5 separate regions of the Homo sapiens genome follow, and regions 2, 3, 4 and 5 are each linked to region 1. Evidence: fine-mapped expression QTL. A gene starts in region 1. Each other region holds a variant in brackets. All regions are shown on one strand. Distances are between the middles of the regions.

Region 1 (4,121 bases):
CTGTGCGAGAGAACAAGACTCTGCCTCAAAAAATAAAATAAAATAAAATAAAATAAAATAAAGTAAAGTAAAATAAAATAAAGCAAAGAATATGTCTAAAAATGCCTTGTCTGGGGTTGGTACACATACAGTGAGCACGGAATAAACGAGAGTGTCTGTCCCTTTGCTGTCCTTTTAAGTTTCCCGGGTTGCCGAGGGCAGCGTTGCAGATTGCAGTAGTGCAGTAGTCCCCTGGCTGCCTGTGCCGCCTCCCTTTGCGCGTCTCTGACGAGCCCACTGTAAGGGACTTTCCTCTGTGCTCTGATGGCTTCTCACCTCTGCAGGTGCACAAGGCAGCCCTGAAGTAGCGGTGAGTTGACACTAGGGTGAGCTTCGCCCAGTAGAGCGGGGATTCACAGAAGAGTGCCCCGTGGCTTTCCCGAGGTGCCCATCAGAGGTCCTCGGAAGGCACCCGGAGGAAAGGAGCGCCATGTGGAAGACCCTCAGCCACATGCTCCTCCTGGCTTTCCCTTTTTTCCTTGTCTCATTCTCTCCACTTCCTCATTTGGGCTTTTTGGTCTCACTTACCCCCAAAAAATTACCTGCAGGTAAGCCCTTGCATAAGGCTTTGCTTTAGGGCAGAATCTAAACTAAAACACACACCAAGCCCTTGAGCCACAAGTGCCTCCTTCCTCTCTCCCTCCTGCTTCTATATGCAGTCAACCACCTCATTTGGTTAATCTCTCACCATCTCTCTCAAACATCAGTCCCTTTAGTTGGCAATCATTCCAGACTAAACCAATATGGTTTTAGTCCCCAGGATGTATTCTCATCCACAATCGTCCTCTACAAGAACTCTAACAAGAACCGTTACATTTCGTCCACTCTCTCTAAGGTGAAACTTGCAGAGCGCCTCAGCCTGGCTTCTCCAGGGTCTGGCATGCCAGTGATTACTGGACGTTTTTCCTGCTACTTTCTTCCACTAAATCTCTCCAAGCTCGGAAAGGTTGGCATTCTGAGCATGCCCTGCATTTCCTGTAGAATTCCATCTCTTCCCCTCTTCCCTTCCTATCCGCCACCTTTTTCTTAATACTGCTCGCGGGAAAGAAATTCACAAAAGAGAGCCAATACTCGGCAGAGCATTGAGAATGCGGGTACCTGATCTCAGCCTCAGAAGTTACCAGTGGAAAAAAGCAGCCGAGAGAGATCCGGAAGCCTGAGCTCAAGATCGTGCTAGCTACCTCCCAGAAGACAAGCGACGTCTTTCACTTCTGGGGCAGTACCAGTTTGACAGGATAAACAAAAACAGACAAAAAACCTCAGATGAGTAATATGTCCCGGAAAGCTGACCCAGCATTCCGCAACGAAATGTGCCCTCGTGCACGCACACACCATGCACATCTTTGTCAAATTCGTAATTTACAAGTTCAAATAGGAGGGAGAAACGTGTTTTGAGACAAACTGCAAATAGCACCAGACTAACAAAACGAAATGAAACCAAAGACCTAGACCTAAGAAGGGAGGGACACCCCCTGACGCCGGGTATGGTCTGGGGCCTCCAGCACTTTGCGGCGACCCCCAGTGCCCTAGGTGCTCAGCTACCGCCCCCACCCCAGGACCCGCTGGGATTGGAAAACTCACCCCTGAGCAGTGCGGATACCTAGGGACTGACGGACAGGCTCTGCAGTGGCGCGCGGGGGACGGGTCGGAGGCGAGGCGGGGCGGGGCGGTCCCGGAGGCGGGGCGGTCTCGGAGGTAGGGGCCGTCCTGGAGGCGGGGCCGTCTCGGAGGCGGGACTGTCCTGGGGACTGAGCTGTCTCGGAGGTGGAGTCCTGCGGTCCCGGAGGCGGGTTGTACCGTAGGCGGGGCTCTCTCGTAGGCTGGCCGGTCCTGGAGGAGAGGCTGTTCTGGCGGCGGGGCTGTCTTGGAGGCTAGGAGGTCTCGGAAACTGGGCTGTCCCGGAGGCGGGGCACAGGCTGGGGTGAGGCGGAGCCGACCCTGAGGCGGGCCCGGGGCGCGGCTACCGCTCCCTGAGCCACGCCCGTGGTCTCCCGTTCCATCGGTGGACCCCACCTCGGGCCGTGCTGCGGGCTCTCGGGGCGCCTACCAGGTGAGCGACCCCGCCTTCCCGGAGGGATGCTTTGGCCTGCATGGGGCCCCAAACCGGCTCCCTCAGGGTCTCTGCGGGTTCTTGGATGCGAGAGGGGACCCAGCCAGTTTGCTGTCGCACTTGATAAGAAAAGCAAACCCTAAGTCTCCAATAAACCATATTTGGGGCGAATAGTTCCCTAACAACAACGTATGCCACGGGGGAGGCCCCGCGTGGAATCAGGCTCCCTTCCCTCCGATCTTGGGGTGGGCTCAGCAGAGCCGGTAGCCGCCGCGTCGCCTCCGTCGCTCGAGCCTCTGCGTGGAGGGCTGCCCCCTAGTGGTCAGCTGCGGGCCATGCACTTCGAGCCCGGTGGATGCTTATGGCCATGGTGCGGGGTGCTCAACTAGGGCATTTTTCTCTCAAAGTATCCACAGAAATGCTGCCCAGCAAGTTATATTCTTGCTGGGAGGGAAACGTGCCTGTGGCATCACTAACACAGATTCGTCCGTGCATGGCTGGAGAAATTAAGCTAAAGCTATAGAGTGGCTGGTGCTCGAATTTCTACGCAAGAGAGGTCAGAAGGTGAAAATCAAGGTGGAAGGGTGTGGTCAGGAGGAGGATTTGGTGTAGTCTGGAGTTTAGGAACGTCTTACCTAGGAAAGTGATGACTGTGCTAGAATGAGGGGAAAAAAGTAGTCTGTCTGCATTTTGCCCACCATTGAGTCCTCATTGCCTATTTTCATTTCTGACATAGAATAGGCTTTAGTTTCTTAATAAATAACTAAATATATGCTAAATAAATAAGGATATAGTGAACGTCCAAAAATATCTGTCGAATTAGTGAGTTAATAACTGACTCTTCGGAGGACTAGTGGAAATCTGATTGGCAGAGGACCAAATACATTCAGGTTTCAGAAATAAAGAGCAAGGAGAAACTTACACAGAAAAGAAATTGTGGATAAGACTTGCCAGAATTTGGAATAATTCCGGCTAGAAATCCAACGTGCGGTGAAGTACGTTGAGTTCTTAGGCTTCATATCAGGGAACAACTGACCTTTGGGAGCTGAAGTGGGAGATGGACATCAAAGAAAGTGGGTCAGTAAAGTTCCACGTTAAAAGCTGATTCAGGCCCGGGTGCGGGGGCTCACTCCTGTAATCCCAGCACTTTGGGAGGCCGAGGTGGGTGGATCACCTGAGGTCAGGAGTTCAAGACCAGCCTGGCCAACATGGAGAAACCCCGTCTCTCCTAAAAATACAAAAATTAGCCGGGCGTGGTGGCACAGGCCTGTAATCCCAGCTACTCGGGAGGCTGAGGCAGGAGAATTGCTTGAACCCGGGAGGCGGATGTTGCAGTGAGCAGAGATCATGCCACTGCCCTCCAGCCTGGGCGACAGAGCGAGACTCCGTCTCAACAACAACAACAAAAAGCTGGCTCGGTATCTTTTGTGTGTTTGTACTCTTAGGTTTTAACCAGTCTCCACCTACATCAACCTCACTCCTCATGGTAAAGTACTACTATTGTTCTAAATTAACTCCTGAGAGTATTTTGGTGTTGCTCTAATAGAAGAAAGGGGCTTTAAACAAAGGTGATTTTTCCAGGGTCAGAGAGCAGAAAGTACCTGCCATTTGGGAGCAGGAGCTGCCTGAGGAATGGAACCTAACAACATAGGAACGGCATAACGGTTCCTAAAAAAAAAAAAAAAAAAAAAAAAGAAGAAAAAAAAGATTAAAGATGGTAACCAGCATTTACGTTCTGACTAAAGGGTGTCCGAGAGAGAATACAGTCATGGGTTCTTAGTTTCTGTTTTTGGTTAGGCGAGTAAAACCCCTTCCTCATCCCTCTTTTCCCCTTTCACTAGAGACAGAAACTAAAAACCGTGAGTTCAGGCAGCTAGAAACCTAAAATAAAAGAAAACGGAACAACAACAACAACAACGAAAATAAGGTGGGTTGGATAAGCTTCGAAATGGTTACTGCTTATGCAAAGGTGCAGGCCCCAGATCTTTCCTTTTACTTGGGAGAAAACAGACGCCATTCAGTGAAAGTCAAC
Region 2 (4,121 bases), 110 kb before region 1:
TGCACCAATCTTGCACAAGAAGGCTTTTCAAAATGGAAGCCAGGCATGGTACTAAAGACCTTGCAGCAGGAACAAGTTCATGAAAATAATATCCTGAGAAACGCAATCATGCCATGCCTATAAGGAGATAGCATTGACTGAAAAGTAGCTCTCCTTCTTTGGAAACCTTGACCACATTTAACGTCTTGGCTGACCTGCTGTTCATGTGCTAGCTACGTGCTGCTGAGGCCATATTAGCGGGGGGCACTTTTGATCTTAGATGAATCAGTGTATCAGAGATGTACCTGAGCAATACTCAGAAAGGTCTGGTTTCTATTTCAAAGTTTCTGGTGAAGACAGCCTAGGGGCCTGAAGAAATAACTTATCATAGGAAACTAGGTTAGATTCAAAAGTGGAACAACAATTTGAAGTAGGCTAATAGCATCTTTTTGTTTTCTTCTACAGAAATGGAGACTAACAGATAGATGTACCGGTATGAAGGTGCCATGTATAGGCATCTCAGCTGCCTTGTTTTGGAGCTGGGAGGCCATATAAAATAATTTGAATTTTTTTTAGGGGGGTCTTAATTTGTCATTACTGTTATTGTGGGATATATCCCTGTTCCAGAACCTAATAACATGGCAGAACAGGAAAAATGTTAATTCAAAATGAAAGTATCTACACTGTAGTTAACTTTGGCTGGAAATGTTAGCAGAGGAGAGGAATTGACATCGAAATGTAGTAGAAATAGGGCCCAGGAAATGTCAGATAAATACTTTTTTCACCAAAATACAGAAACTCCTGAAAATAGCTTATACTATTCACTGACCAAGTCCCAAGGAAAAGGAGAAATAAGAATTAATGGAAAATTCACTCTCACAGTGCAGCCTGTTTTCAGAAGCTAAAAATAGGAGAATGGTTCTAATCACACTAAAGCTTCTTTCTGGAATAGTGAAACCATTTTCTTGAATAGGGATAAATAACAGAGGTCTTTTCTTCTTCTTCTTCTTTCTTTTTCTTTTCTTTTTTTTTTTTTTGAGACAGAGTCTCACTCTTTTGCCCAGGTTGGAGTGCAGTGGCACGATCTCAGCTCAGGGCAACCTCCGCCTCCCGGATTCAAGTGATTCTCCTGCCTCAGATTCCCAAGTAGCTGGAATTACAGGCATGTGCCACCACACCCAGTTAATTTTTGTATTTTCAGTAGAGACAGGGTTTTGTCATGTTGGCCAGGCTGGTGTGGAACGCCAGACCTCAGGTGATCCGCCTAAAGACAGCAAACATATACAATAGTTGGAAATCCTCATCTAGTCTTCTCCCATTATCATACACTCTTGTTAGTAATGTGTTAATACAATAGACCCCTACACCAAAACTGATATGTGACAGGCCCTGCCCTTGGGGCTGTAGATACAGCTGTGAATAGGGTAGGTCTAGTCCCTGCCCCTATGAAGCTTCCATGTAGTGGGAAAGAGAGATTTTAAACAAATAATTACAAATGTGATGACTGATATATAAAGGAAGTTACAGGTTTTATCGGAACATGAGGCTTAGAGACACGGCTCGAGGAAATGACCTCTGGGTTAAGAGCTGAAGAAAAAAAGAAAACCTTAAAAATACTGATACCCCAATCCAAAGTAATATAGAGAAGTGCCGTCCCTTCTCCAAGGCCACCACTAGCTCATAAAATGCCTCTGTGTGAATTAGAGAATGTCGCTCTTGCTATCCTGGCTGGCTCAGTGGTGGCACCCCAGTGGCCCACCTTTGTGTGTGACCCAAATGGCACGTCCACAAAGTGTGTCCCTTCTCCACAGGGCAGGTTTTGTTTTATTAAAAATACAACACTAAACACTATTTTACCAAATTTAGCAAATGGAGAAAATATACATTGAAATTATTCACATTTGAAAAAGATTGCAGACCATTCAAGTTTAATTAAGTCCTGGTTAAAGATACTTAAAGATTTAACAGGAAAAAACAAAAAGTGAAAATGTTTTAATTTCTTATGATAAATATAAATGATAAATGAGTCCTCACTCTGAAAATATAACTCTAAAAAAGGACATTTTTCTAGTTGACTTTTGTTGTTGTTCTACCCAAAAGGAAGCCCAAACATCAGAAACTTCTCTATTCTATTGTGAAGTGGAGGGAAGGACAGGTGGAAGAAAGGAATGACCCAGGAGCACAGAACAATCTGTAGAAATGAGAAGGAGGGCCGCATTCACGCTGAAATGTGTGCATCACAGCTGGAATAAAGAAAGCAAGGGATAGAGGTGGGAGG[C/A]AAATCTGGAAACACTCGCAGAGACCAAATCATGGAAGACTATGTTGGCATGCAAGCTGTGTTGTAAATTTTAATACAGTTTATATCTATCTTGTTTAAAAGGTGTCATGCTTGCATAGGGTAGAAAACATATGTGGTAGAAATACAATATTAAATTACTAACAAAGAGCTTATAAGAAAAACAACAGGAATCTGCCCAAACCCTACTCTGTCTTTATCTCCCCTGTTTCTCTACTCTTTCAATCCTACTCTCCCTAAGAAATTGTTTCAAAACTTAAAAAAAACAAGTCTTCTACTTCTCTTTTTTTCTTTTCTTTTTTCTTTTTTTTGGACGGAGTCTCACTCTATTGTCCAGGCTACAGTGCAGTGGCGCGATCTCAGCTCACTGCAACCTCCAGCGATTCTCCTGCCTCAGCCTCCTGAGTAGCTGGGACTACAGGCATGAGCCACTGCACCCAGCTAATTCTGCATTTTTTTTAGTAGAGATGTGGTTTCACCATATTGGCCAGGCTGGTCTCGAACTCCTGACCTCGTGATCCACCCGCCTCGGCCTGCCAAAGTGTTGGGATTACAGGCGTGAACCACTGCACCTGGCAAAAGTCTTTTACTTCTATAGGTATAAATAGTAGACTTACACCATTACAATTTTACTACAAAATTTCTAAACATAGGCAAAAGTTGAATAAGGATCCTTCAAGAGCCCCTTCACTTAGCTTCAATAACAAACAACATTTGGCACTGTCATTACCAATTCTCCAGTACCAAAGAAAATGTATGCTTCCCAGTACAGCCAGTAAAAGTCTGTCGTATGCACTTCATCACCCTGGCAAGGGCCACCTTCCCATCACTTGAACCAATCCTTGTTGGAAGGTATGGACAATTAGATGAGCATGGATTCTGTGCCCACTCCTGCCAACAGTGTGGGCCAACCCCTTCCAAACCAAGTGGACTCTGTGTTGATGTTGGTGTACCAAAGGAAACCAAAGGAAAACTGATGGGGCTTTTAGCAAAGCAATTGAGTGGCTCATGGGAGGGAAAAGCAAACCAAACCCATGTCCTGTACAGTAGTGATTGGACAAAAATATACAGTCCAAGGGAAATTATAAGCACTAGTTCCAAAGTGAGACAAGCTACATTCAGTATCTATCCTACTGTTCACAGGACATGTTTTTTTCTTTGGGTTGGTTCCAAGACCATCCAATAATTTTCTTCTAATAATTTTTCTAGACTTAGAACTGTGAAATTATGGAAGTAAATGTCTCAGAAATCATGGATCATCCCTATCACTGGCAGCAAATTAGTTTCTGTGAATAGACAAAAGAATCTGAGAATACTGCAGTTACAATTAACTATCAACTTAAAAACAAGAGGCAAAGTCACAGTCTCTCTGTATGAGAGACAAGGAGCTACAGGCTCCAACTTCTACCAGGAAGTGTGTGTGTGTGTAAGAAGCCAGACATTGTCTCTGTTTCTAGGGCAATCTATTAAACCCAGCAGTATCCATCATTTTACCCTAACATCACTGTTGAGAACACCAGTTCTGCAACCTACAGAATGGGAGAAAATTTTTGCAAGCTACCCATCTGACAAGTTCTGATATCCAGAATCTGCAAGGGACTTAAACAAATTTACAACAACAACAAAAACACATCAAAAAGTGGGCAAAGGATATGAACAGACACTTCTCAAAAGAAGACATTTATGTGGCCAATAAACATGAAAAAAAGCTCATCATTACTGGTCATTAGGGAAATGTAAATCAAAACCACAATGGGGTACCATCTCATGCCAGTTAGAATGGCGATCATTAAAAAGTCAGGAAACAACAGATGTTGGTGAGGCTGTGGAGAAACAGGAATGCTTT
Region 3 (4,121 bases), 160 kb before region 1:
AATTATATCAGCTCTTGTAATTCCTTTGATTTTTTTCCATAAAAATTTTAGAATTAACTTGTCAATTTCTCCAAAAAGAATATTGCTGGGATTTTTTGTAAGATTGCATGGAATCTATGGAAGGTTAATTTATGATTAACGTTAATAAATTAATATAACAATGTTGAGACTTGCAAATCTTGAATAACGAACATCTTGTATTTGTTTAGGCCTTTGATTTCTTTCACTGGCGTTTTGGAGTTTTCAATATGCAGATTGTACACTTGTATAAACATATTTTGTTAAATTTATACCAAAGTGTTTCTTATTTTTCTTATTATTATAATAGCACTGCTTGAAAATTTTCAGTTTCTACTGGTAGTATATAGAATGTAGACAGAAATGTGATTTTGTGTATTAAATATACATTGGCCTTCTAACTATTGACCTTGCTAAATTTACTAATTAGTTCTAATACCTTTCTTGTAGATTCTTACAATTTTCTAAACATACAATCATGTCATCTGCAAAGAGAAACATTTTTACTTCTTCTAATCTGTAGGTCTTTTTTTTTTTTTTGAATTTCTTCTCTTATTGCACTTAGAATTTTCAGTGTGTCTAAAAAGAGTGGTAAGAATGGACTTCTCGTCCTTATTCCTGATCTTAGGGGCAAAACATTTGGTCTTTTAGCATTAACTCTGATGTTAGCAGCCCATTTTGTAGATACTCTCCCTCAGTTTGAGGAAGTTCCTTTCTATTATTAATTGATGAGAATTTTTGTTATGGTTGGATTTCAAATTTTGTCCAGTGATTTTCTGCATCTTTTGAGATGAGCAATGTTTTTCTTCTTTTGTCTACTGATGTGGTGAACTAATTTAATTAACTTTTGAATGCTTAACTATCTTTTCACGATGAAATAAACCTCACTTGGTAATGATATATTATCTTTTTTTTACATATTGTTGGATTGTAAGTGCTAGCATTCGATTGAATATTTTCATATCTATGCTGTGAGGGATATTTCGTCTGTAGTTTTCTTATAATGTCTTTGTTTTTAATATCAGGTAATGCTGAGTTTATAAAATGAGCTGGGTGTCATTCCCTCCCGTTTTATCTTATGGAAAAAATTGTGTATAATTATATTACATTTTTCTGAAATGTTAGGAAAAACGTGTTAGTACAGCCAGCTGGACTTGAAGATTTTTCTTTGAGAATTTTAAGCCACAAATTCAATTTCTTTAATGTATAGTAGCTTATTCAAGATACCTATTTCTTCTTCAGTGAGTATTGCTGCTGTGTCATGTATGACACATGTATGATTTATTTTTATGTTTATAAATGACTAGGAAGGATCTGAAATAATTTTCTAACCTTCATTCCTAAAATTGATAATTTGTGTCTTCTCTCTTTTTATCTTGGCCGATATGGCTAGTCACTATTAATTTATGGACTTTTTTCAAAGGAACAACTCTTTGGTCATTGGTTCTCTCTTTGCTTCTCTTTCATTGTTTTTCCAGTTCATTGTTTTCTTCTGGTATTTTTATTTCCTGGAAATTTTGGGTGGATTCCTGAGAATCAATATTGTAGGCCATTGTTTTTTTTTAAAACACTGTGACCTATAATAACAAATACTTTTTATATCATATTTCATTATGTGCTCAAAAAGCCCATTTACATATAATTAAAACGAACTTTCACA[A/G]AACAACACTCAGCCATATTACATGTGAGAAAGTATTTTTTTCAATTCAATTCTATTTTGTTCCAGCCTGGATGAATTCTCTTTTGTTAACAAGAAGCTGATCACAACCTGCTAAACTACCTTCACAGACTACTGATTGTTAGTGACCTGCGGTTTGAAAAGCATTGCCGAACATGATTCTGCTAACAAATCATGTATACAATGCTTGTGAGACCCTCTACTATTTCTTTTTTCCTTTTATTGGTACATAGTGTTTTGCACATTTATGGGGGTACATGTGAGCATTTTTAATGTGCATCGAACATGTAACATCAAGTCAGGGTATTTGGGGTATCCATCATACTGAGTATTTGTCATTTCTGCATGTTGGTAACATTTCAAGTTCTTTCTTCTAGCTACTTTGAAATATACAATATGTTGTTGTTAACTATAGTCATCCTAGTCTGCTATTGAAAATTAGAACTTATTTCCTCTATCTAACTGTAAGTTTGTGCTTCTTCATGAACCTCTTTTCCTTTCTCCCTCCGCCCACTCTCACACCCTCCCAAACTCTGGTGTCATATCTACCCGTCTATTGTCTACCTCCAGGAGATCAAGGTTTTTAGTTCCTACATATGAGTAAGAACATGTGGTATTTGTCTTTCTGTGCCTGGATTATTTCACCTGACATAATGACCTTTATTTCCATCCATGTTGCTGCAGATGACATGATTTCATTCTTTCTTATGAACAAATAGTATTTCATTGTGTATATATACCACATTTTCTTTATCCATTCACCCACTGATGAACACTTAGATTGAGTCCATACCTTTGCGATTGTTAAGTATTCCCTTTTCTATACATCCTTGCCAGCATCTGTTTTTATTTATTTATTTTTTGTCTTTTTAGGAATAACCATTCTCATTAGGATGAGATAATATCTCATCATGGTTTTGATTTGCATTTCTCTGATGATTAGAGATGTTGAGCATTTTTTAATATGCTTGTTGGCTTTTGTGTGTCTTCCTTTGAAAATTGTCTATTCATGTCATTTGCCCACTTTTTAATTGAATTATTTGTTTTTTTTTATTGTTGAGTTGTTTGTATTCCTTGCATATTCTGGATATTAGTCCCTGGTTGGATGAATAGTTTGCAACTACTTCCTCCCATTCAACAGTTTGTCTCTTCACTTTGTTAATTGTTTCTTTCACTGTGCAAAAACTTTTTTAGTTTACTATAGTGCTATTTGTCTATTTTTGTGTTAGTTTTCTCTGCTTTTGAGGTCTCAGCCATAAAATCTTTGCCTAAACAAATATCCTGGAGTATTTTCCCTTTGTTTTCTTCTAGTGGTTTTATAGTTTAAGGTCTTACTTTTAAGTTTTTGATCCATTTTGAATTGATTTTTATATAAGGTGGAAGATAAGGGTCCAGTTTCATTCTTCTGCATGTGAATATCCCATTTTTTTCAGCACTATTTATTAAAGAAGGTATCCTTTCCTCAGTGTATGTTCTGGGCAACTTTGTTGAAAGTCTGTTGGCTGTAAATATGTAGAGTTATTTTTGGGTTTTCTATTCTCTTCCATTAGTTTCTGTGTCTATTTCTATGTCAATACCATGCTTTTTGGTTACTATAACCTTGTACTATATTTTGAAGTCAAGTAGTGTGATGCCTTCTGCTTTGTACTTTTTGCTCAGGATTGTTTTGGTTATACTGGCTCTTTTTTTATTCCATATGAATTTTAGAATTTTGTTTTCTATTTCTGTAAAAAATGACATTGGTATTTTAATAAGGATTTTATTGAATCTGGATATTTCATTGGTCATTTTGACAATATTGATTCTTCTGATCCATGAGCATGGGATGTCTATTTGTTTATGTCTTCTTTAATTCATTTTAACAGTGTTTTACAGTTTTTCTTGTAGAGATCTTTTACCTGCTTGGTTAAATTTATTCCTAGGTATTTTTTTTTTGGTAGCAATTGTAAATGGGATTGTCTTCTTGATTTCTCTTTTGGCTGTTTTATTATTGGTTATAGAAATGCTACTGATTTTTATATGTTGATTTTATATTTTTCAACTTTATTGAATTTGCTTATCATTTTTAGGTGGAATCTTTTTTTTCTAAATATAAGATTATTTCATGTGCAAAGAGAGACAATTTGACTCCCTCTTTTCCAATTTGAATGCCTTTTATTTTTTACTCTTGTCTGATTTCTCTGTCTAGGGGAAATAGTATTTTTAGCATTATGTTGAATAGGAGTAGTGAAAGTGAGCATCCTTGTCTTGTTCTAGTTCTTAGAGAAAAGGTTTTCAACTTTTTGCCATTCAGTATGATGTTGGCTGTGGGTTTGTCATATATATGGCCTTTATTATTTTGAGGTATGTTCCCTCTATACCTAGTTTGTTGAGAGTTTTTATAATGAAATGATGTTGAATTTTATCAAATGCCTTTTCTGCATCT
Region 4 (4,121 bases), 120 kb after region 1:
TGACCTCCCTCTGGCTCCAGTGTGCCCATGTCCACCCTACCTGGCCAGAAGATGGCTTCCTGAACTGGACTCTATCGTCACCTTTGTAGAGGGCTTAACCCAGTAGCCCTCTACAGGCTACAGTCAGCTTCCAGGATGTGAGGGAGCACTGAAACTTTCTGCATTTATTGCAAAGCTTGAGGAATAGTTTCAATTAACAGAGCTTCTAAAAAGGTGCTTCCAAAATATCTCTCACAACCTACCAAGGATGGCATAAAACACTTCAGGTTTGAGGCAGAGAACTGTTGGAACAGTTTGTATTTTGCGAAGGAGAAAAATATGAAAATGTTCAGTTTACAAGGCACAGCAGGATAGAAGTAAATGTGTGAGGAAATAAAAATTAATCTCTGTTTCTAGCATTGGCTTGACTGGCACCTTTCTTCTAAACTCTTCAAAGCATTTCAACATAAAAATATCTACTATTCACTGAGGGCTTATCATGGACTGGACACTGTGCTAAGTGCTCTGCATGGATCGTCTCATTTGATCTTCACAAAAGCCCGTGAGTCAGGTATTACCATCCTCCCCATTTTACATCAGAAGAAACTGAGGCAGTAGAGACTTTAACTTGCCCATTGCTGCAAAGGCACAAGGTAGGAACAAAGATTCAGACTTGCACATTCAGGGTCTAGAACCTACACCTTTAGCCACCAGGCTATGCAGCCTCCAGAGGGGTCTTGGTGGGCTAAGTAGATGAAACAACCTCCGCTACACAGAGTGCATGTGATACTGAAAAAGATTTGAAAATCTTGCGAAAATATCACAGCCACGATGGAATTCCCAGGTCCCAGACCACAAGATCTCAAATCTATTGTAGAAACTAAGGGGAACTGGTTTACTGAACAAGCTGAATTCACAAACTGTAATCAGAAAAGTGCTGTGTTCTTTCTCATCTCCATACACTCAAACCTGCACTATGGGGCTAGTCCTTCTCTGTGCCTTGGACTAAATCCATAACAAGTAGCATGAATGTTCTAGTTCCTCCCAAAAAATCAAAACGTTTTCATTCGCCTTAAGTCCCCAAAACATTCTCACTGCAGTCTTAAAAATATCCAGCCCAAGGTAAAATCAAACCTCTAAACCTTGTTTTAAGATAAAGCTTCTTCTGACTCCCAACCCCAAAAGCTTAAAGTGGGGAATGTTGGCTTCTTCTCTCTTCTCTAACCTTCCTAGCTTCCTCACCTCCCTCCCCTGCCTGGCCCCCACTAGACTGCTTCTGACTCCTCATGGGTTAGAGCAGGGGACAGAGACAGGTAAGAAGCAGAAATGTTCTTGTTGATGTGCAGTGGGGGAAGCACTTGGAGAGCAAGAAGGAGATCAGACTCAAGAAGACAAGAGAAAGTATAGAGAACAAAGCTGGAGGATCTTTAATCATGAATTAACCCCAGGGCAACCTGGGATGGGAGTAAGAAAAGAGATTAGAATCTGTGTTAGTTTCCCATTGCTGCTGTAACAAATTGCCACATATTTGTGGCTTAAAACAACGTAAATGTATTCTCTCACAGTTCTGGAAGTCGGAAGTTCAAAATCAATTTTACTGGGCTAGGGTCAAGGCATTGGCTGGGCTTGTTCCTTCTGGCAGCTTCAGAGGAAAACTCATTTCCTTGCCTTTTTTCAGCTTTTAGTGGCTGCTGGCATTCCTGGGCTTGTGACCTCTTCCTCAGGTCATTCTAACTTCTTGCTTCTACCTTCACATCTCTTGGCCTTTGGCGTGGGCTGCCAGTCATCCTGTTCCATTCAGCTCTTCATGGATACAGCCGACTGGGGCTGTGGATGTATGTGGGCAGGGGAGGGAATGAAGAAATGCAGCCAGGATAGGGCACACC[G/A]CAGCACCAAGCAGCTACAACATAATCAGATTGTGAGCATTAAACAGAAGGCATGTGGAGTAGTTTTCTAAAGCAGCCTGTTCGATTCTTTGTAAAAGGCCCTTCACGGTTTCCCCAGCTTGATATGGGCTTGGCCCTAAAGAGAAGACGGAGGCAGAAAGATCTGATGCTGGTGTTCCTGCCTCTCTCTCTAAAGACCCTTGTGATTATATTGGGCAAACCTGGCTAACCCAGGATAATCTCCTCATCTCAAAATACTTAATCACCCCTGCAAAAATCCCTTTTGCCATAGAAGATAACAGTCATAGACTTGGGAGATTAGGACAGAAGGTGGACACATGTGCAGGGCCATTATTCAGCCTATAACCAGGTCCAAACTGTTAGGGAAAAATTGAGGCAAATGCTTAGGCCTGGAGGGGAGCCAGAAGGCTCTAGAAATAAAAACGAGTCAGCTTCCTTAACTCAAGGCCAGGAAGCAAACTCTATCTAAAGAGCAGGAAACACCCAGCCAGAACTCTTTTCTCTGCTCCTTTTGAGTATTAAGACACGTCATTTTGCTTAATTCAGTCATGGAAAAGATCTTGACAGCAGAAAGACACTGCTTCTGCTTTTGCAAACCTCTGTGTGGAATTCCACAATGCCAGAGCATAAAGAGACCTTTGCCTTCTTCCATTGCAACCACTTTTTTTTTTTTTTTTTTTGAGATGGAGTCTCACTCTGTCTCCCAGGCTGGAGTGCAGTGGCATGATCTCAGGTCGCTGCAACCTCCACCTCCCGGCTTCAAGTGATTCTCCTGCCTCAGCCTCCCAAGTAGCTGGGACTACAGCAGGTTCGTACCTCCATACCCAGCTAATTTTTTGTATTTTTAATAGAGACGGGGTTTCACCATGTTAGCCAGGATGGTCTCCATCTCCTGACCTCGTGATCTGCCTACCTTGGCCTCCCAAAGTGCTGGGATTACAGGCGTGAGCCACTGCACCTGGCCGTTTGCAACCAGTTTCTTTTAGAAAGGAATGTGAGAGGCAGCATGGTCTAGTGAAAAATGCCCAATATTTGAAATTTGACATCGGGTATATCCCAATTTTCATCTTGGCTGGCTCTTTACCAGTTGTCTACCTCTGGCCCAGTCTGTGTCCACCTTGTAGAACTGTTCTGAATGTGACAGAATAACATTTTCTTTTCCTCACTCCTGAGACATGACACAGATTCTGTCCCATCTTTACAGCCGAGCCCGTATCAGGCTGGGGAAACTGAGAAGGGCCTTTCAAAAAGAATCAAATAGGCTGCTTTAGAAAAATATTCCACATCGGCCAGGTGCGGTGGCTCAAGCCTGTAATCCTAGCACTTTGGGAGGCCAAGGTGGGCCGATCACCTGAGGTCAGGAGTTCAAGACCAGCATGGCCAACATGATGAAACCCCATCTCTACCAAATATACACAAATTATCCAGGCATGGTGGCGGGTGCCTGTAGTCCCAACTACTTGGAGGCTGAGGCAGGAAAATCACTTGAACCCAGGAGGTGGAGGCTGCAGTGAGCCAATATTGTATCACTGCATTCCAGCCTGGTTGACAGAGTAAGACTCTATCTCAAAAAAATAAAATAAAATAAAATAAAATAAAATAAAATAAAATAAGAAAAAGAAAAGGAAAATATTCCATGTGCCTTGGGTTTAGTGCTCAGAATCTGATTACCTTGTAGCTGCTTGGTGCTGCGGTGTGCCCTGTCCTGGCTGCGTTTCAGCAGGACGAGCTGAATAATGAAGAGAAGAGATGCCCAATTCTCTGTCCAAGATGGACACCATATGGAGAATTGCAGGCACAAGGATAACACTTAGAGAAAAACAGATCAATCTATATTTTCTTTATTAATTCCAAATTTCTGAAGCCCTGAGGCACCTACATCAAAACCCACAACCTTTGGATTTGAACACTGAGATTTTGATAAACTAGGGAACTCAGGATATGACATAAGGGAAATCTTCCATTTCATGAGAGGGCAAAACCTTCTCTTTCTGACACAGACTTGGGAATAAATAAAGGAAGAGAAAGGTAGAAGAAGCAGACATTCAAATATATGTGTTCTAAACAGCCCTCCAAGGGACTGAGGCCCTGAGGATGAAGAGATAGGATAAGAAGAGGCCAAAGGTGGAAATACTTTCCTGATCCCCATTTAGAGCCCTACCAAGAGACTGTTGTTCAGGGTGACCTAGAAACTCCAAAGATGTTGAGGGACGATAGAAAAGCAGCAGTGAAAGA
Region 5 (4,121 bases), 150 kb before region 1:
TCCTCTGGGTCTTGAGAAGTATGTGCTGGTGTTGGTGGTGGCTGCAATGGGCTGCATGGGCCAGTCTTTAGGCTTGCAGGCGGCACATGCAGATAAGTGCCAGTTGTGGTATTCTCATTTTGGTGAGTAGGCCCCTGGGAGGAGTGTTTAGGTTCCGATGGTGGTGAACCAAGTTGGGAAATCCCCTGGCCCCTAGACTATGTGCTCTTTTATGGAGAGGGGGTAAATCTGGGTCAGATGAGCTTGTCCTCAGGCCTCCAGTGGCGTGTGGAGGAGCCACCCAAGGTACAAAGGGGTTGGGTGATCCGCAGGCCACTGGTGGAATGCTTGCACTGGGGGAAGAAACAACTGTGCTGTTATCCTGCCACTGGGGAGGGTAGTTCTGCCTTCATTGGCAACAGCATAGGCCAATGGATGGGGAATGTGTGCACCACTTGCACCTCAGTCCCAGCAGCACTGCACCTTAGCCCCAGGTGTGATAGCCCAGGGTCACTCACGCCTAGATCTTGGGGACACAGCCTGCACTTCTCTTGAGCCCCAGCTCCAGCACTGCTGGACTCCAAGACAGCATATAGTTTGTTGGGCCTCTACTATTTCTTGATCCATGACATTGATAAAAATTAAAAACAACTTGGATAGGACACATGGTCTAGACTCACAGCATATTCCAAGAAATCTCTCACCAGGTTCAAACAAAGTCATTAATTTCTTCATTAATTTAACAAATATTGAGCCATTACCTATGTGCCAGGTATCAATTTAGATACTGGGGATATAGCAGTGAACAGCACAGATAAAGTATTTGATCTATGAAGTTTCTATTTTAGTGGGTAAAAACAGTCAATAAAATATACAAATAAATATGTCAAGTGACGATAAGTGCCATGAAGAGAAAGAAAGTAGGATAAAGAGAGACATGGGAATGCCACACTATTTTATTTGGGATGGTTAATGACTATTTCTATGAAAAGGTAATATTTGAGCAAAGAACTGAAGGAGTGAGATATATATGGGGAAACCATATTCCAAACAGAGGGTACAGCAAGTGCAAAGTCACTGAGGAAGTGTCATGCTTGAAATTTGAAAGGATTGCAGCTGGGGAGGGGAATGGTAGAGATGAGTTTAGAGAAGCAGCAGTGTCCAGGCCGCAGATTCTTCTACAAGCCATGGAAATGACAGATTTTACACTGAGAGAGAAGGGAGCTATTGGAAGTGTTCTGCAGCTGAGTTATATGACTTGACTTACACTTTAAAAGAATCATTCTGACTGCTGTGGGGAGAACAGACTATGGGGGGTAATATGGTAGCAGGAAGATCAATTAAGAAACTCTTGCAAAAGTCCAAGCAAAGGATGATGGTGACCTGGATTAGGGAGATAACAATACAGAGGTAGAGAAGATATTAAGTTCTCTACGTACTTAGAAGGAAAAGCTGACCAATTTTCCTGATAAATTGTATGGACTGCAAAAGGACAGAAGCCAACCCCTATTCTCTATCGTTCCATTTTATATGTTTTTATAGCTTTTGTTACCATTTATAATTATATTATGTATTTTTTGCCCACTTATTGATTGTCTTCCTTAACCAGTAAAGTAGTATTCCACGATATCAGAAACTTCACCTATCTCGTTCACAACCAAATTTCAGCACCTAGAAGAGTACCTGGTACACAGCAGGTGCTCAATAAGTATTTGTTTGTATGGATGAGTGAAAAGAAAGGGATTTGGCATCTATGATGAGCCCTTAATATATTTCTACCCTTCCCACTCTAATCCTACTTCTGGGAATCTATTTTGAAGAAATTTCACAAAGGCAAAAACTTATCCCAATAGATACTCATCAAAGCAACCTATTCTTACAGTGGAAAATTAAGCACATTCTAACAGTTCAATAGGAGGAGAATTTGGGACACTTCCCAAAAGGTTCAAAGAAGACATTGCCCACTTTTGGGACAGGATGGTCAATGGTTAGAAACAGTCTGCTCTGCCAGGGCTTAAGCACCCAGAGATCAGCAGACTCATGGGCACTGGGTTATGCCAGCTAGATGGCAGGGTTATGTTAATTCATTTCAAACCATGCATTCTAATTACAAACTCTTAAAATCTCAAGGGTTTAATTTAAAAAGTTTTACAGCAGGCTTTGAACCAGTTCCTGGGGCCTCATTATTGTCAGCTCTCCTCACCACAGGCCTATGTGGCGGGAGTTTAGGGAAAAGAGAGAGAAGACTATGGGGAAAAGAGGGGAAAGAGAAGCGTATATGATTGAAAAGCCCAAAGGAAAGTGGGAGTAGAAGTTTAATTAAAACACAGCTGGGCAGTTTGCATCAGTGAGTTTAACGCTGAGAAGGAAAACAGGCTTAGGAAATGCCATATGAATGTGGGTATGCTTGCCCCCCAAAGAGCTAACATTTACAATAGACATTGCAGTACAGCCATGGCAGGTACTCAGCACCTTTCTGTGTGCAAGCATGAACATATTGAAATGTACAATTTTACTAATTAAAGACCCCCTTTAGTCTACTGACAGAGTATAAAAAATAAATAAAATATAACCCCATTTTTTT[TC/C]TCCCCAAAGATAGAATTATTTTTTAACTTGCACTGCAAAATTCTGAATTCTAGCACTCAATCTTAAGTATATTTACTCTCAAAGCAAAGAATTTCTGAACTGAAAGGTACTTAAGGCATTTTGACTCTTCATTTTTCAAATAAGGAAAACAATGCTCAGAGAGTATCTCAACATAGTAAAGAAAGGAAGAAGATGCTGTATCTTTCCTGATCTCTACTTAAGCTCTCTCTTCACTGTTCTGCACTATTTTCTAGTTATTTCTGGGATTATTTATTCAACAAACACTGAGCCTTCTAGTGCAATGCACTGGTTAACCATGGGGAAAAGTGCACACAAAGATGAAACAGGAATAAATTCTATCTTCTGGAGTTGTATACTCTGGATGTAAATGTTCTTATATTCATTCTTTCTCTCTTTTCCTCTGCCTGCTTCTAAAAAGAACTTGAGGTGGTCAAGCTTTAGACCATTATATATTTAAGATGCTGAAAAGATTTCATTCAACAATGCTTTTTGCATCAATAATAATTTTATTCACTATTAGTCAGACATATTTTTTCTTCACTTTAAGTCCTCTCCTTGACTTTCTGTAAGTACCTTAGAAATTTCCAAGTAAGTGTCATTTGCTTTGCCTATTGAAGTCAAATTATGTTATGTGTTTGAATTACAACTTGAAGGGGGCTATGCTTTTAGTAGCTCATTTTTTGTGTTCAAATGCAAAAATTATTGAAATTATTCTATGCTTGTATTCTATGATTGCTTATTCTGAGTTCCATTTGCCTCTTCTTAAGAAATCATTGTTGTCTAGAGAATGAAAAAAGACAGGTCATATTAGTAAATCAATATTTATATTCAAGAAAAAGATCTAAAATATTTTTTAAAAGAACTATTCTCATATAAAAATAAATCATCTCTGATAATATGTTTTCTAAAAGAGTTTGGCTTTTATGTTTATGCAAGACTGACTTCCTGCCAAGCCTTCACTCCAAGATATGTCACAGTGGAGGGTCCCAGTGTTTCCCCTTGTCACTTTATAGGATTAGTTCGGTCCACTGTCATTCGGCTAAAATGCCTTGTATCTCTGGTTAGTGTGAAGTCCATAACTAAGCCCAAGTATTGGTTCTTTAAACTTTATAAAGTGGCTCTTCCATTCACTCTCAGGTTGTACCATTCATCATACCTTCAATGGCTGGGGAAAACGTACTGTCTCTTTATGGTCTTTTTAATGCTCTGCAAAGTGATTTGTTAAAGGAAGGGTTTTGAAAGAAGTATTGTCCTTTTGGCTTAAAGTTTATAGTTTTTCAGCACTTACTATAAAAGGAACACATCCACAACCACATTTTTTTTTCTACAGGTAAAGGAACGGAATGTTTAGTCTGAAAGCTTAGAAGGAAGATGAGGTGCAGCATGAAGACAAAAGCAAAATCGGAAAGCTAAAACAGTAAGAAAGGAGACAAAAATCCGAGATGAATTGTAGCAAAGTGATATATTTATCATTATCCCAGAATATATAAATTTCTTTTTTTACCAGAATATTAAGTCTTTTGAAATGTTCCAAA

Evidence for each region. PIP is the estimated chance that this variant, and not a neighbour inherited with it, causes the effect.
Region 2: its variant is fine-mapped to the expression of TCAF2 in whole blood (TOPMed, PIP above 0.99).
Region 3: its variant is fine-mapped to the expression of TCAF2 in whole blood (INTERVAL, PIP 0.93).
Region 4: its variant is fine-mapped to the expression of TCAF2 in whole blood (INTERVAL, PIP 0.96).
Region 5: its variant is fine-mapped to the expression of TCAF2 in whole blood (INTERVAL, PIP 0.95).

Annotation. Positions count from the first base shown.
Region 1 is chr7:143,618,520-143,622,640 of GRCh38, reverse strand. TCAF2 (TRPM8 channel associated factor 2) reads right to left here and starts at 1,667. Exons shown (of 8, transcript NM_001363538.2): 1 at 1,621-1,667. It overlaps LOC101928466 (a long non-coding RNA gene), which reads left to right and starts at 3,932. Exons shown (of 4, transcript XR_007060573.1): 1 at 3,932-4,121. RefSeq lists a silencer at 1,603-1,762.
Region 2 is chr7:143,730,232-143,734,352 of GRCh38, reverse strand. It overlaps TCAF2 (TRPM8 channel associated factor 2), which reads right to left. Exons shown (of 8, transcript NM_001363538.2): 8 at 3,943-4,121. Among named protein-coding and RNA genes, the nearest start is that of CTAGE6, 25 kb to the left of the region's middle. The variant C/A (reference allele first, on the strand shown) is at 2,258.
Region 3 is chr7:143,777,912-143,782,032 of GRCh38, reverse strand. No RefSeq gene overlaps it. Among named protein-coding and RNA genes, the nearest start is that of CTAGE6, 22 kb to the right of the region's middle. The variant A/G (reference allele first, on the strand shown) is at 1,679.
Region 4 is chr7:143,497,660-143,501,780 of GRCh38, reverse strand. All of the region lies in intron 2 of EPHA1-AS1 (EPHA1 antisense RNA 1), which reads right to left. Among named protein-coding and RNA genes, the nearest start is that of TAS2R41, 22 kb to the right of the region's middle. The variant G/A (reference allele first, on the strand shown) is at 1,866.
Region 5 is chr7:143,768,980-143,773,100 of GRCh38, reverse strand. No RefSeq gene overlaps it. Among named protein-coding and RNA genes, the nearest start is that of CTAGE6, 13 kb to the right of the region's middle. The variant TC/C (reference allele first, on the strand shown) is at 2,564.